Linked DNA regions of Homo sapiens: region 2 is linked to region 1. Evidence: fine-mapped expression QTL. Tissue or cell type: caudate. Region 1 holds a variant in brackets; the other region holds the start of a gene. All regions are shown on one strand. Distances are between the middles of the regions.

Region 1 (8,108 bases):
TCTTGGCTCACTGCAACCTCCACCTCTTGGGTTCAAGCAATGCTTCTGCCTCAGCCTCCCAAGTAGCTGGGATTACAGGTGTGTGCCACCGTGCCCAGCTAATTTTGTATCTTTAGCATAGATGGGGTTTCACCATGTTGGCCAGGCTGATCTCGAACTCCTGACCTCAGGTGATCCGCCCAAGTCGGCCTCCCAAAGTGCTGGATTACAGGCGTGAGTCACTGCACCTGGACTCTCAAAATTGTTTAATCATTGTGTTGGGTATTTTCTTTCTGCCCCTTCCAAATCCACTCTACCATGTTCCATCCTGCTTTGTGCCCCCATGGCTAATCAGCTGAGCAACCTGTCCCTTGTCTGGACAGGTTCCTGTCCCTCTTGGGGGAGAAGCAGACCTTGGCTATGTACTGGTGTAGCCTCCAGGCCTCGAAAAGCTTTACTGTCTCTCCTCAGGGACTGATGACTTTTGCTTCTGTCCTTTCCCCAGAAGCAGATATGTGCCTGCATACCAAAATATGGAAAGACGGGATTGCTGGCCCCCCTCCAGAGGCAGAGGGCTTTGCTTCTCAAGGGCTTGCTGCTTCTTCCTGACAGCTTAATTAAGGCTTTTGCTCCCATGAGAGGAGCATCAAGGTGTGGGGGCAGCCACCTCCTCCTGCATCCTGTGCCACCAAACGGGGGGGTCTCTCCAGCCTTTTGCCCTGCCCTAGTCTTCCTCAAGAGCACCCCCTCTTCCCCATGGAGACTATGAAGAGAAGCTTGGGAGTGTGTGTGAACTCCGCTTGTGTCTGGGCCTCTCAATTATTCTAAATTAATATGAGATATGAGTGCATACTCAGTCTTTAGAAATTCTTTTTTTTTTTTTTGAGTCAGTCTCCCTCTGTCACCCAGGCTGGAGTGCAGTGGTGTGATCTCAGCTCACTGCAGCCTCCACCTCCCAGGTCCAAGTAATTCTAGTGCCTCAGCCCCCCAAGTAAGATGGAATTACATGGGATTACAGGCATGAACCACCACACTCGACTAATTTTTTTTTTTTTTTTTGGTAGAGACAGGGTTTCACCATGTTGGACAGGCCGGGCACCTGACCTCAAGTGATCTGCCCGCCTCAGCCTGCCAAAGTAAGGAATTCATTATTTTTAAAAAAATATTTCTTCTTACTCACTCCATGGCAACAACCCCCTCCTTCCTCCCATACTCTGCCAAAGGTGCAACAATTTCATATCCTGCCTCTCATTAGAGATGCTTTTTATCCTTTGAAGTTTACTTTCCTGGTTGCCTTGTGACCTCAAGTCTCTGATGAGTTTAAGGAAAGAAAGTTATAATATTGTACACTGTTCCTCATTTTCTTGTTGTTAGGATGGGGGTGACATTCTCTCGTAGCTTTCTATATTCCAAGCAGGAGCAGAAATCCTCATGTATTATTAATAGCACCACCTTTCACTTCATAATCACTGTGGGCTGGAGGATAAATTATATGGCTGCAGAAAGTTAGGCCCCCACTCGAGGCTACCAGCACCTGGCAGATGCATTCAGGGCAATGCCAGCTACAGGGCTTTTTTTCCTCTGGGTTCCTGCTTAGCTTTCTGGCCTTAGAAGATTTCCTTGACTTTCCTATAAGCTTAGGTGTGCATTTTTAAAAATGTTTTTTTAAAAACTATCTCATCCAGCTTTTTTTTTTTTTTTTTGATACAGAGTCTTGCTCTGTCACCCAGGCTGGAGTACATTGGCGCAATCTCAGCTCACTGCAACCTCTGCCTCCTGGGTTCAAGCGATTCTCCTTCCCCAGGCTCCTGAGTGGCTGGGATTACAGGCACCCACCACCATGCCCAGCTAATTTTTGTATTTTTAGTAGAAACAGGTTTTTGCCATACTGGCCACGCTGGTCTCAAACTCCTAACCTCAGGTGATCCACCCACCTCGGCCTCCCAAAACGCTGGTGAGCTACCACACTCGGCCTTATCCAGCATTTTTAAGTGGCAGAAAAGCTTCTCCAGATATCTAGTGAGTCATACAGCTGGAAACAGAAGTTGAAAAAAAAAGTTTTATAATATTAAAATGTTAAGGTTTTACTTCTTTCCCAATTAACATTAATGATTCTTGAAATCGTTGGTCAGATGACTGTATGTCAAAAAGCAATGGTTAATATGAAATTAATATTTAAAAAAAGGAATCTGTTAATGTCAAAGATGGACTTTACTAAGCTTTTCTTAAATATTCTAAAAATTCAATTTATCTGGAGGGTGTTAACATGAATAATTTAAAATTCATTTCCCAACTGCAAGGGAAATCAAATTGATTCCAATGGTTTTCCTGAATCTGAAGGCTTGGTTATTTTTAATAATTTTTTTTGGATGATAAATGGGTGGCAATATGATGATAGATGAGACAGAGATTATTGTTACAGCATATTAAGAAAACTTTAGACACTGATGCTATCATAACCAAGGGTGAGCCTAGGTGTAGAAGTCACAATGTTCCTGAAGCAGAATGTTGGTCAACTGGATGAGACCAGTCAACTAACAGAAATCAGCTGTGATGCCCACAGCAACCATGCTTTCAAGAACTCAGTGGGCCGGATGCTGGAGAGTAGGTGGTGCTGTTTTAATGATTTACAGTAAGATGCCCCATTAAAGGACTGAATCATTGCAGGAATCCCCCCATATATGGAAACCTAGGTACTCCCTGGGTTCCTTCTAGGTGGCAATGTAATCCAAGCGTATAAACGTGATACTGCTGACCCTACATCTGATTTGGCCCATCTGGCTGACTAGGGGGCTGTCTCCACCATTCCATGAGTTTTTTCTCCTGTGTACCACCCACTGCACCCTGCATTGTGCACTCTGTTGAGGAGGACAATTACTTCAGATACAGCTGGATTGTTCTTTAAAGTCAAACATATGGGAATTGGGGGCTTCCCTCCAAATCAGTTCGTAAGTCCATTTGTAAGAACTATATGTGACGGCATGCTTGAAAGCTTCAGCTACAACAACTTCATTTCTTAAAAAGTGATGGATTCAATAATGTTAGATGGATTTGATAGGCATGTATTATATTATGGAAAAATGAAAATGCATTCTCTGGAGACACACTGGTAGATTTCTAAATTATGTCATATGCTTGGATTTAGCCTGCAACAACTGCTATACTCTGAATTGTTCATCTCCGGACAAGTATTTAGTTTGTGGAATTTGATTTAATAGTGCCCCTTAAGGTATTAGAGTTTGTCTTTCCGGTCCACGTTAAAAGTCTCTGACCTTAAACTCTGTACAAAGAAAGCCCTTCAAAGAAAGCTCGGGGCTGAATTGAGGAGGATTCTGGGTAGAATCCTCTCCGTCTGGGATCCCCACCCTATTAGTTTACTTGAGGTGTGGCGCTCCTTCTAACAAGTTCAGCTTGAAGACTCTGAACTGGCTAATGCCGTTGTTTATTCCATTACATATGTATTATGTTGGTTTGTATCCCCACAGAATCACCAAGCCCAGTTTACAGGTTGTTCTTCTTTATAGACCTGTGAAATCCCCTGGGTGTTCCAAAGAGCTTTGGGGTTTCTGGGAATGTGGCAGAAAGAATACAGTAGGACGCGTATTAGGTGATGTCTGCGCTGTTCCTTCATGTGAAAGAGCAGTGCGTATGTAAGCAATGTTAGGGCTCTGCAGGCAAGAGTCAGAACTGGGGGGAAACCGGCAGTTCATTATGTCCAGCACCTTCCATCTCAATTGACACATCTCATAAAGTCGTTTTTTAATAAATCAGCTGAGTCATAGAGAAGTGTAAGTGATATGGTTTGGCTGTGTCCCCACACTAATCTCATCTTGAATTCCGACATGTTGTGGGAGGGACCCCGTGGGAGGTAATTGAAGCATGGGGGCAGGTCTTTCCCATGTTTTTCTTGTGATAGTGAGTAAGTCTCACGAGATCTGATAGTTGCTATAAGGGGAAGTTTTCCTGCACAAGCTCTCTCTTTACCTGCAGCCATCCACATAAGATGTGACTTGCTCCTCCTCGCCTTCCGCCATGATTGTGAGGCCCCCCCACCAGCCATATGGAACTATAAGTCCAATTAAACCTCTTTCTTTTGTAAATTGCCCAGTCGCGAGTACGTCTTTATCAGCAGTGTGAAAACAGACTAATACAGTAAGTCATTTTTGCCTGAGATTAGATATTACAGAAAGTCACACAGAAGTGTTCCATGAAGTTTAGAAATAAAAATTCTAGAAGACATACATTTGTCATGTAATGGTTGATTTTTCTTCAAAATATTCAGTGAATGTACAAAACCCATTTTAAACTAAGGACATGTACAAATTACTTAAATTCGTCCCCAGATGAACAATTGGAGAAAATATGAATAATGGGGGAAAATCTAACATGTGCAGTATTCAAAATTAATTAAAGAAAGGGCAAATCTTTGGCATCAAATGGAACAATGTTTTACTAGAGGTATGCATAAAAGGAACACTGACATGAAGGAAAGCATATTAAAATCTTGTGTTTGAAGATTCACTGTTCCCTAGAGTTGCTCTAGTAATTAAGATTAGCAAGAAATTTGTCAGATATTAAAACAAAAGAAGAGTTTCATCAGTATCACCAGCAATCTATTGTTAAACATAAAGTAGCCAAGGAAGCACCTTAGGACCATGTTTAAGAGCTCAGGGAATCCCCCTCCACCCCATAGGATTCCTGTCAGTTTACCTCCAGAGAATGGGCTTCTGCTAGAAGTCTGGGAGCACTGGATTAGTCAAGAAGGCCAAATACAAGGATCAAAAGGACACCACAGCTGGGCATGGTACTCACACCTGTAACTCCAGTGCTTTAGGAGGCAGAGGCAGGAGGATCACTTGAGCCCAGGGGTTCAAGGCTGCAATGAGCTATGATGGCGCCACTGCACCCCAGCCTGAGCAACAGAGCAGCAACCTGTATATACATATATATATACACACACACACACACACACGTATATATACTTATATATATGTGTGTATATATATATATACATCTTATCCCTGCCAGGTAGCCATGGAATAAGGATGTGAAGGTCTATAGGCACACCAGCTCTGACTGAGCAAACAGTGGTCAGAA[G/A]GGAGGAAGAAGCTTTTCTGGATCAAATGTGTCAAGCAGGCCCTGAGAAGAAAAGACAGAGCAGCACATGATGGCAGCCATACATAGGACATGAAAAGGCAGAAGCCAAAGAAGAATAGGTAGAAAAAGCCAATGGTCCTGTTTTGGTCTTTTCAGTTACTCTTCAGTACACCGTCAGCTACTTAATCTCCCTTTCCTCTTGTTTAAGTGAAAGATAATATAACAATAACAAAACAGTTGTATTTATTTTTAACATAACATTATTGTATATAAACATTTATATAAAAACAAAATAGGACAAATCACTAATGGTAAGTTTTTAAAAATAATTAAAATGGTGTGTTTAGAGGGGTATGAAAATGGAATTGTTAAACTCTAAAAGAGCACACTGTACATGAATGCCTTAGAAGAAGCAACTCAATAGGATGATATATTTTAAGGGATTGAATAATAGAATGTTCTTCCCAGAATCTTCTACAATGGTAATATCAGCATAGTGCATTTATTCGTAGTACAACCATGTATTTTGAGTAACATGCCTTTCAAAAACAGTACTGAATATACAATGCATAGACCACCTAGAATAGGTATGAAAGAAAGAAAACTGAAATGAATAAAATGGGGAAAATTCCATGTTTTATTCTATGGGAGATAAATTTCTTATATATCCATTAGAATTGCCTATGAAAATCAAACCACAATTTGAGTCCATTTTCCTCATGATATTCTAATAACCAGGACTTCCATTTTCATCAAATAGAATTTATTATACATTTACTTTTGAATCACATTGGGCTGGGTATTACTTAAAACATGGCGAATAGAAATAGTTCATACCTCTTAGAAGCTTATAGATTAAATGGATAGTGGTAAACACGCATATGTAAAAATCATGCACACATAATACATACTTAGTAGTACATGTCTAAACAACATGAATACATGCTAAACTAAATTACTTCTAGTGCTTTTAGCATAATATAATGGAAAAATAGTTTTTAAGTGTGTTTAGCCATCTGATTAGCTGAGACACAAACTCTCCCTGGAAGCCTACAGCTGAGGTTTGAGGGGGAAGAGGGAAAGCTTTCAGCCTATACAGGTTGGGGGATTGGAACAGAGACCCTCACATAACACTGGACCTCCAAATTGCAAAGAGTTCTTACCTTTAGAGATACACAGATGAAACTATAGGATGTCTGGCATTTTCTTCAAAATAATCCAGGGGTGGGAGGAATGGGTAGAGATTACAGATGCAAAAAAGATTGACTATGAGTCCATAATTATAGAAGCTGGGTATGGCTACATGGAGGCTTATTAGAATATTCTATTTTGTATGCTTGAAATTTTCTAAGATAAAAAGTTTTATTTAAGAACCATTAAAAGAAAAACCAAAAATTGTGTAATGGAATTGAAACAAAGCTGACACAAGATGAGAATCCAAAATGTCTAAAGAACTTCTAGAAATCAATAAGAGAAAGACAAAGAAACCCATTGAAAGATGGTTTAAACAAACAAATAAACCGACATTTTATGAAATAAAAAAATGCCCAGACCAAACGTCAGAAGATGTGCAGTCTCATTAGTAAGCAGGAAAAAGCAAATTAAAACCACAATGAGATATTCTGTATGTTATGATATGCTAGGTAATATTGTTGCCACCAACACCCAAGAATCATACCAACAAAATTTTACTTCTCACTCACACAAATGTCCAGTTTAGGTCATCTGGGAACTGTGGTCAGTCATCTGTTCATTATGATCACTCATGTTCCCAGGGTCACACAACAGTTACCTCCGATGTTGTAGGCCTCCTTGTCAGAGGGAAGGAAAGCATGGGGGTTTTTGCATCAGTAAGTAATTGCTCCAGCCAGGAGCTGGCAGACATTCCTTCACAATTCATTACAAGTCAAACTCACTCATAACAAGGATTTAGGAAGTGCAATTCCTTCTACTATGTGCTTGGAAGCAGAGAAAACTGGAAATGTTTAGGGAAAACAAATGACTTTCACAGATGCCAGTTTTTTTCTATCAGATTGGCAAAACTATATAGTCTGACAAAACCAAATATTGGTGAAGATGTAGAGCAATAAAAACACTTACACACTTTTGACTGAAGAGTAAATTGGTACCACTACTTTAAAAAACAATTTAGTGTTATTTAGCAAAGTTGAAAATTCATATAGTCTTCGACTCAGCAATACCACTCTAAGATACATACTTTAGAAATAGTTTTGCATATGTGCACCAAAGACATATTCAAATATGGTCATAGAAGCACTGTTTGTACCAGCGAATCAAACAAGCAAAAAGAAAAACTGGAAATAGCTCTCATGTCCGCAGATAGTGGATAATTTTTTGAATATTCATTTAATGAAATACCATTTAGGATAGAATATGAATGAACAGATACATGTTCATCTGGTTGAATTTCAGAAACATATTGAATGAAAAAAGTAAGCCTAGAATTATTGTATTTGACAAAGGTCTAAAAAAGTTAAAATTAATATATTATTTTAGGATTACATACTTAAGCAAAAATAAATAATTAAAAGTTAGTTTAACACAAAATTCAAGATATTGTACCTTTGAGTACACTTTGAGTGTATCAAGGTAGGGATGTTACCAGGGACAGATTTAAGGTATTGATAATATTCTTTTCGTCAAGTTGTTTGGAGTTGTAAACATTGTTCACTTTGTTATTATTCTTTAACTTGTACATATACAGTATATGTACTCTATGCATGCAAAAAAGCATAGAAATATATCTTATATTGTGGAGAAAAATCAGTCAATGGAAACAGAACAAAAATGACACAGATAGTAGAACTAGTAGTCAAGGACATTAAAAGAACTATTATAAATATGTTTCAAATGTTCAAGAAGGTACAGGAAATAGAAAAACAAAAAATAGAGAATATCATTGGAATAAAAAACTGGTTTTTTGAGATCAGTGAGTGATAAACCTTTAGCTGGATTCATCAAGAAAAAAATAGAAATGATACAAATTATTAATTATAGAAATGAGAGAGAGG
Region 2 (8,108 bases), 25 kb after region 1:
GGAGACACTGTGAAAAGACACAGAGAGAAAGCCCTGGAAGGCTGAAGCAGAGATTGGGTTGATGCTGCCACAAGCCAAGGAACACCTGGGGCTACCAGAACCTAGAAGCAGCGAGGAAGGATCCTTCCCCTCCAGGTTTCAGAGGGAACCTGGCCCTGCTGGCACTTTAATTTCAGACTTGTAGCCTCCAGAACTATGAGACAATAAATTTCTACTGTTAATAGCTGCTCAGTTACAACCTCCCTGGAAAGCACATACTCCTGTCCTATGGTTCTATTCTGTTCTGTACTATTTTGTTCTATTTTATTCTCTTTCATTAAGAAAATGGATTTCCAGGCTGGGCACGGTGGCTTACACCTGTAATCCCAGCACTTTGGGAGGCCAAGGCAGGTGGATAACTTGCGGTCAGGAGTTCGAGACCAGCCTGGCCAATATGGTGAAACCCCGTGTCTACTACAAATACAAAAAATTAGCTGGCTGTGGTGGCGGGTGCTTGTAGTCCCAGCTTACTCGGGGGGCTGAAGCAGGGAATCGCTTGAACCCGGGAGGTGGAGGTTGCAGTGAGCTGAGATTGCGACATTGCAGTCCAGCCTGGGCGGCACAGTAAGACTCTGTCTCAAAAAAAAAAAAAAAAAAAAAGGGAAACAGACTTCCCAATCTACTAATTTTGAACAACATCAGTCTCTAGAGCTCAGCATTCTTGCCCTTTCCAAGCTGGCTCCAGTCTAATTTTCTAACCTCAGTATTAGTTAACCCCCGACCCACCCTGAACACGCCTGGTGTCGCACAGTCCATCTGTCCAAGAGCACAGCATCAACCTGAGTGCAGGTGGCCTGCTCATTGCCTGTGCTGCCACCTTTCCCCTCAGTGGCTATTCATTTTTTAATGTCTAGCTTCAAGTCACCTCCTCTGACAGGATTCCCCTGGCTCTTCGGGCAGAGTCATTTGGTCCCTGTCCTCTGTTCCCCCACACACACACTTTATCAGCCCCAATTACAGCTCTTATATTGTATGATGGGATCAATCTGTGTGTCCCCTTCATCCCTTCCCCACAACTAAACTTCAAGTTCCCTAAAGAAGACTATCTTTTTTCTTGTTTTTTCTTTTTAATCAAGTGTCTAGCACAGAACCTGACACACGACAAATCCGAATACAGGGTACCCCAAAAAGGTCAGTGCAGTTTTAAGCTTTAATAACTTCTTAAGTCGAAATGCTACAAACTTACAAAACTCATTTGAACGTTTACTTCTTTTGACTCTGTTTTAATTATTTTAATAAATGTAATTTTCTCTTCTGGTTAATGTATGCCATATTTCACTCAGGGGAACTGAAACAAAAATTAAAGTTAAAACGTGTTATTCAACATTCACAGAGATAAATAGTGTTAAATTAACTTTCAAATGGTGTTCTTATAAGTTGCAGCATTTATAGCCTTGAGGTTACTAAAACTGCAGGAAGACTTTTGGGACACCCTGTTTTTGAATAAATATGCTTACAGCATGGCTCCTCCTGTGTTTACTGTAAAATTCAGTTTAGTTTTTAAGTGGTTCCACGTGGGCACAGGTATTCTTTGGCCAGTAGTTGTCCTTATACTTAGACCCAAGGAGCCCTTGTCCAGGGCCCACACTTTAGAAGGCAAATTCCAAATTCCCTCCCCAAATGGCACTGAGCCTGCTTCAAGGGTCTGCACGCCAGCAGCAGTGTTATCTGCTAATGTCTGTACTCCCATGGGCGAACATTGCTGACTCTGGTGTTCATACTCTTGTGCCCAAGAGGTGGCTGGGGGACAGCTGCTTCTGGGAAGCTTGACCGAGCTTCCACCAATGGACTAGAGCCCTGTGGGAAGAGAGGAGGTGGCTGCAAACCAGGAACTGGAAATCGCCTCTCCCTGCACCATCATATTTAAGTGCAGATCATCCAAAGTTTCAATCTGGCCTTTCATGTCAATTCCCAAGGTATATTTGTCTAGGTAGGAAGGTAGAACTTATTGTACTTAATCATTTGTTAACTTTGTTTATAACTTTTAAATATTTAGGTATCTGGCCTACAGATCTCTGTTTGTACTTTTGCCCTGGGTCCTGCATATATTAAAGGTGGGCTGATTTTGGCCTTAAAAGAATTATTTTCCCACAAACAGATTTTTCTCCTTAAAGAGCTAGGTGGGTAGGAAGTACTTCCATATGGAAGGTATGATAGCAAAGAATGACTGCAGTCACTGAGCACATACTTTGTGCTGGGTGATTTACACATAGTTTTTCAGTGAGTCCTCACAACAACCCAATAAAGTAGGTACTTAGGAGAAAACAGATATTCAGTGACATTAGTTTGTTCCAGCTCGTAAAACTAGTGCTTTAGTTAGCCTTAGTTGCATAACAAACTACGCGAAACTGAAAGTGGCTTAAAACAATTTTTCCCCCTGACTGTCGGGTTGGCTGGGCTGCTCTACTGCGGGTTTCCCTGGGCTCACTCCTGCAGCTAGCTGTGAGGAGATGGAGGTTGGCCCGGGACAGTGCAGAAGATTCCCCGTGGCCTCTCCCACCTGTCTGGCAGTTGACGCTGCTGTTGCTGATAATGATGACCCTCCTTTATTTTGTGTTATCTACTTGCCATTGCAACCTCCTTGCCTTTTTTAGTTCTTGCTCCCGTACTGTCTGGCTCGATGCCCAGCACCTGGTGGTGGCTAATAATATACACTCAGGTCACTTACAAGCAATGTGACCCTGGATGGGTTACTTAACCTCACTTAGTTTGTGTCCCCCAATTGCAAAATGGGTATAATGGTACAGAACACATCAGGTGGCTCTGAGACTCCAGCGCAGTGATTCAGGAGAGTGCTTGGCAGGACAGTGGCACTTGGTGCGAGCTTACTGCTAGTGCAGCTGGAATGTAGACCATCAGCGAACGTGTGTTGCCTTTTTAAACAGTGGGAATCAAACACCACTCGCTTTCCAAATGTAAATCCTGGGCTTGCAAGTAAGTCCTAGAGTGCAGAAATAATTTCAAAATACAGGGTTGAAATTTTAAGATAGCAGCTTTTAAAAACTGGGAGACAAAATCAAAATAAAACAAAGGGACAAACCAACCTGAATGGCACCCCGCCGATGCTCTTCATTAATTTTTAAGATTCCACCCTGGGGCTGCTTGCTTCTTCCAGCATGGGAAGCGCTGACTTGATGCGGCCAGGTTTCTGGGACCAGGAGGTTGGGACACGACGACGCACTTTTTGCCCTGTGGGTCTGGGTCATGTGAGCCTAGAGGAGCGCTTAAAGGCTCGAGTTCTGCAGGGTCCTCGTGACTGGGTGGGGCTGCCTCACTTCTGCCTGATTTGGGAAGCGCTGCAAGGACAACCGGCTGGGGTCCTTGCGCGCCGCGGCTCAGGGAGGAGCACCGACTGCGCCGCGTAAGTGCCGCCTGCCCTGCGTGGGTCGTGCCAGCTCAGCGGGACAGGTCCTCGCCTCGGTCCCTCGGACTTAGGGAGCGCGGGGCAGGTAGTCTCAAAAGCCCTCAGCACCAACAGGGGAGAAAGCACCGTAGAGTGAGACTGGAGTGGGGTGGTCGTGGCCGAGTCAAAGTTCAAATTGGAGCATTGGGGATGTACTGCGTGCGCCCAGCCGAGGGAATACTCTTGAAGTTTCCTGGCACAACTGTCGCACCCGGGGTTCTTCCAGGCTAGAAGCCGTCTCCTACTCCAGGAGCTCCTCCGGGGAAGTACGAAGCTGTGGGGTCCTCTGCCGCTCTTAGCGCGGGAGGGTGGCGGGTGCAGGACACTTTCCCTTACTCCCTCAACGCGTGTTTTGGGGATGTGTTGATTTCGTGGGTGCTCAGAAGCAAGAGAAGCGGAAAATACCTTCTATTTTGAACGTGCCCAAAGCAGGGAAACTTGGCTTCTGCCTAGGAACGCATAGGAAGACTTTTATTCTTGGAATGTAGGATTAGCAGAAACCAAGGGCACAGGAGACAGGTGGAAGCAGCTCCCTGTGAAGTGATACAGAAACAAAAGGACTTTGGAATATTTGTGGATTTAAATCCCAGTTCTGGCCTTGGCTAGTGAGTGACCTCGGGCAAATTATTTAAGCCTACTAAACCTCAGTCTTTCCATCTGAAAGATGGAGATAATAAGTTTTTCTTTTTAAAGAATTGTTTTATTGGAAATAGAAATAACATACAGAAAATGCCTCCCTAGCACGGGACTTGGCTTTTCAGCTAAGTGTAATTTTCCTTATCAGTTATGATTGATGATGAAGTCTATGGTGAAGACAGAACAAAATAATGTTTAAAACTCTGGCCATATAATGACTGTGGCTATGCATGACCCGTGTGCAGTCACCTCTGAGCCCCCCACCTTCACTGCAACCCCAGTGGGTCCCAAGCAAGGTGCTTGGGTTTTGGAGCTGGACAATTCTGTGCAATTCCTGGTTCCGGTATCCACTACTTGGATGACATCAGGGACGTAACTTATCTTCCACAGCCTCAGTTTTGGCATCAGTAAATGAAAAAGGAGCCCCTCAGTACTTGCCTTTCCCTTCCCCGGCTAAATGTACAACTCATTTTTTTTCCATTCTTTGCTTTGGGATGAGTAAGAACAAAGATGTAAGCAGAGTAAAAAGTCCATTGAGAATACATTTTATTAGCTTGGTAAATAACGTTTAAGAAAGTTGTCCAAAAGGAGAATTGGAGCACTTTTGGAAAAGTACACTGCACCGGCTTTGTTGGCATATGAAAGTCTGCATGGTCGTCAAGACCGTTTGGCTAACTGGGCATTCTAGATGTGTACCTCATGCTAGTCTAAGTACAGGGGCAACCCTTTATAATGTAGTGTCAGTGTTCTTAACCAGATGTTGTTTTATTAATCTTTTATAGGAGATGATTGTTTGGGAGGGGCAATTGATCCCCCAATTTATATAAATCCAGTTTATAAATCACTTTATAGTGGGATTCTACTAGCCTGAGAAATAGGTGGGTTTTGACTGACAGTTTGAATGACTTAGAAGAGTGTTAAGAAAGTCCACTGGGTTTACCAGTTCACTCCCCACAAAAAATAAAAACAAGAAGCAAATAATATAACAGAATTCTAAAAATGAGTTTGTTTTTGTTTTGGGAAGCATCTAGTTTGTCAGAGGAAACACTGAGTGTTGAATACTACCCTGGGATGCACAGAACTAAGGCAATGAGAGGGGAGGAACTCAGTTCTTGCCCCAGGTATCATCAGATATCTGTTTATTAGCACCCAAATACTCAAGGTAAATAGTAATGACCCATTCTTTCTTTTTTTGAGACAAGAGTCTCACTTTGTCACCCAAGCTGGAGTGGCACCATCTCTGCTCACTGCAACCTCCATCTCCCGGGTTCAAGGGATTCTTGTGCCTCAGCCTCCTGAGTAGCTGGAATTACAGGTGTACACCACCATGCCCGGCTAATTTTTGTATCTTTGGTAGAGATGGGGTTTTGCCATGTTGCCCAGGCTGGTCTCGAACTCCTGACCTCAAGTGATCCTCCCACCTCGGCCTTCCAAAGTGCTGGGATTACAGGCATGAGCCACTGTGCCTGGCCAGTGACCCCTTCTTAATAGGAAGTATGGTTCACTAAAGAGCAAACATGATTGTTTTAGTTTACCATTTCCGATGGCTTTATAATGTGAGATTTTCATTGACTGAACTAAGAACATTTAAAAGAAGTAGGCAAGCTTCTCAGAATTAGAAAGATACCTCTAGAACAATGACTCATTAACGTCTATATTGACTTGTGAGAGAGGTAAGCTGGGCAAAAAGCTAAGAACTGTACTTTCCTGGTAAAAACAGTAGTGGAGTTTGAACTTTTATACTATATTTGCAAGCTCAAAGATGTAAGCCTTAATAGACAGTTCACAAGACAGCTGTTACAGCGTATCTGAACTGAAACCAGGGTATTGAGATTGCTCTCCCTTAAGAGATATTAGAGGTATAACCTTGAACATGAAATCACATGCTTTCATTGCTTTAACTCAGACCCTGGGGTGCAGGACAGGGTGGTGGTAGTGAAAGAGGGGGAAGGACTGTGTCCTTAGATCTTGGAGCCTGAAAAAGCAAATTCTTAGCAGCTTATCTTTCCAATATAGTTGGAACTTACCTCCTACCTTTTTCTCTCTAGTCTGATTCTAGTTATTGGTTGTCTTTAAATTGCTTAGAATTGTTTACAGGCCAAAATATTTACTTTGAACCCTAAAGGTAAGCTCTTCCTCCTTTCCTTTTTGGGACTCTGTATCCCATTACCCCTCTTTCAAAAAGATAGTGCCACATATCTTTTTGTACTGTATGATTCTTGGGAGAGAATGTAACCCAGGTCCCAAGCGATTCATTTTCTCATTTATTTATTCATTTAACTAATTTTTTCCCAGTGTTTGATTATGAAAAGGTTTAAACTTTCAGAAAAGTCAAAAGAATTTTGCAATCTAGAATCTACCTAGATTCTATTATTGATTAGAAGCCAGGGTATTGATTTCAATTGATTAATCAACTGGCATTGATTAGTTCCTACTGTTTGCCTGGAGGTTTGCTCAGCAAAGCTGTAAAAACATAAAAGGCAGGGTAGGGTTAGGGAACAAGGAGAGTTTTGATTTGGCGGAGCATAGGCTAAGAGTTTGTGAAGGAATCATGTAACTTTGGTTTGAAAAGTTATGTTGAAGTTGTATCATGGAGGACATTAAATTTCATCGTAGAAAGTTTATACTTTTTCCTGGTTGCAGGTGGGAGCCATTGAAGGCATGGGAGGAATGGAGTGCCTTGTGTTTTAGAAAGCTCACTGAAGCATCAGTGTTAGGCTAAATTGGAGGGAAAAGGACCGGAAGTCTGAGAGATGTGTTAGGAAGCTTTGTAAATGTCTCGGGGCAAGTAAGGGTTGAACTGTGGATAGAATGGAGAAAAAAGGAAGTAGAATAGCACTTGGTGACAGATTTGACTTGAGGACTTCTGGTTTTAGAACTCAGGCATCTGCAATTATAAGGGAGCATCATTAAGAATCTGGAAGTCGCTGGGCATGGTGGCTCATGCTTGTAATCCCAGCACTTTGGGAGGCTGAGGCGGGCAGATCACCTGAGGTCAGGAGTTTGAGACCAGCCTGGCCAACATGGTGAAACCCTGTGTCTACTAAAAATACAAAAATTAACCAGGCGTGGTGGTGCATGCCTGTAATCCCAACTACTCAGGAGGCTGAGGCGGGAGAATCGCTGCAACCCGGCAGCAGAGGCTCCAGTGAACCGAGATTGCACCACTACACTCCAGCCTGGGCAACAGAGCAAGACTGTGTCTCAAAAAAAAAAAAAAAAGTATCTGGAAGTCATAGAAGGAGGAAGTTTGAGGAGAATGATGACGTCCTGTTATAGAGTCAGTGGGTTTGAGGGGCTGATTGGTTATCCTTTTGGAGGTGACAGCTGACAGTGGTGATACTGTCCTGAAATGCCCAATAGCAATGTCAGGACTGAACAAACATTTGGACTAGTGATTAATACTCAAGGGGTGGTTGAATGGGAATGTACGGAAAGAGAAAAAAGGATAAGATCTTGAAGAAAATCTGAATATATGGAGTCCTTGGAGCAAAAAATAAATACAGGTGTTCAATGATCTGTTAGTATTTTAATGCCTGTTTATCTACAGTGTTACTATAGCTGCAGTTCTCATTAATAATTGACCACAGTTCCTAACTAAAAGACCATATCTGCACTAGTAAAGTGAAGTAAGTCTTTCCTTTTCCCATTCTGGGAAGTTCAGGGGGTAAGGTGAGGCAGAGGAAAGAAGAAGAGAAAGTTAAATAAATTTTTTTATCTAGGACTTTTAGAGCATACAACGCTTTTTCCAGGTAACCCACTTGCAGATCAGAAGCCAGGTAATTTAATGAACTTGTCTATCTTTTCACAAGGCAACAGCTACTTTTTTTTTTTTTGAGATGGTGTCTCACTCTGTTGCCTAGGCTGGAGTGCGGTGGCACAATCTCAGCTCACTGCAACCTCTGCCTCCTGGGTTCAAGTGATTCTCCTGCCTCAGCCTCCTGAGTAGCTGGGACTACAGGCGTGTACCCCCACGCCTGGCTAATTTTTATATGTTTAGTAGAGACAGGGTTTTACCACGTTGGCCAGG

Evidence for each region. PIP is the estimated chance that this variant, and not a neighbour inherited with it, causes the effect.
Region 2: CPVL starts here. The variant in region 1 is fine-mapped to the expression of CPVL in caudate (GTEx, PIP 0.99).

The regions. Positions count from the first base shown.
Region 1 is chr7:29,166,705-29,174,812 of GRCh38, reverse strand. It overlaps a transcript of CPVL not described here and a transcript of CHN2 not described here. Among named protein-coding and RNA genes, the nearest start is that of CHN2, 24 kb to the left of the region's middle. The variant G/A (reference allele first, on the strand shown) is at 5,077.
Region 2 is chr7:29,141,721-29,149,828 of GRCh38, reverse strand. CPVL (carboxypeptidase vitellogenic like) reads left to right here and starts at 3,292. Exons shown (of 13, transcript NM_031311.5): 1 at 3,292-3,400. It also overlaps a transcript of CHN2 not described here.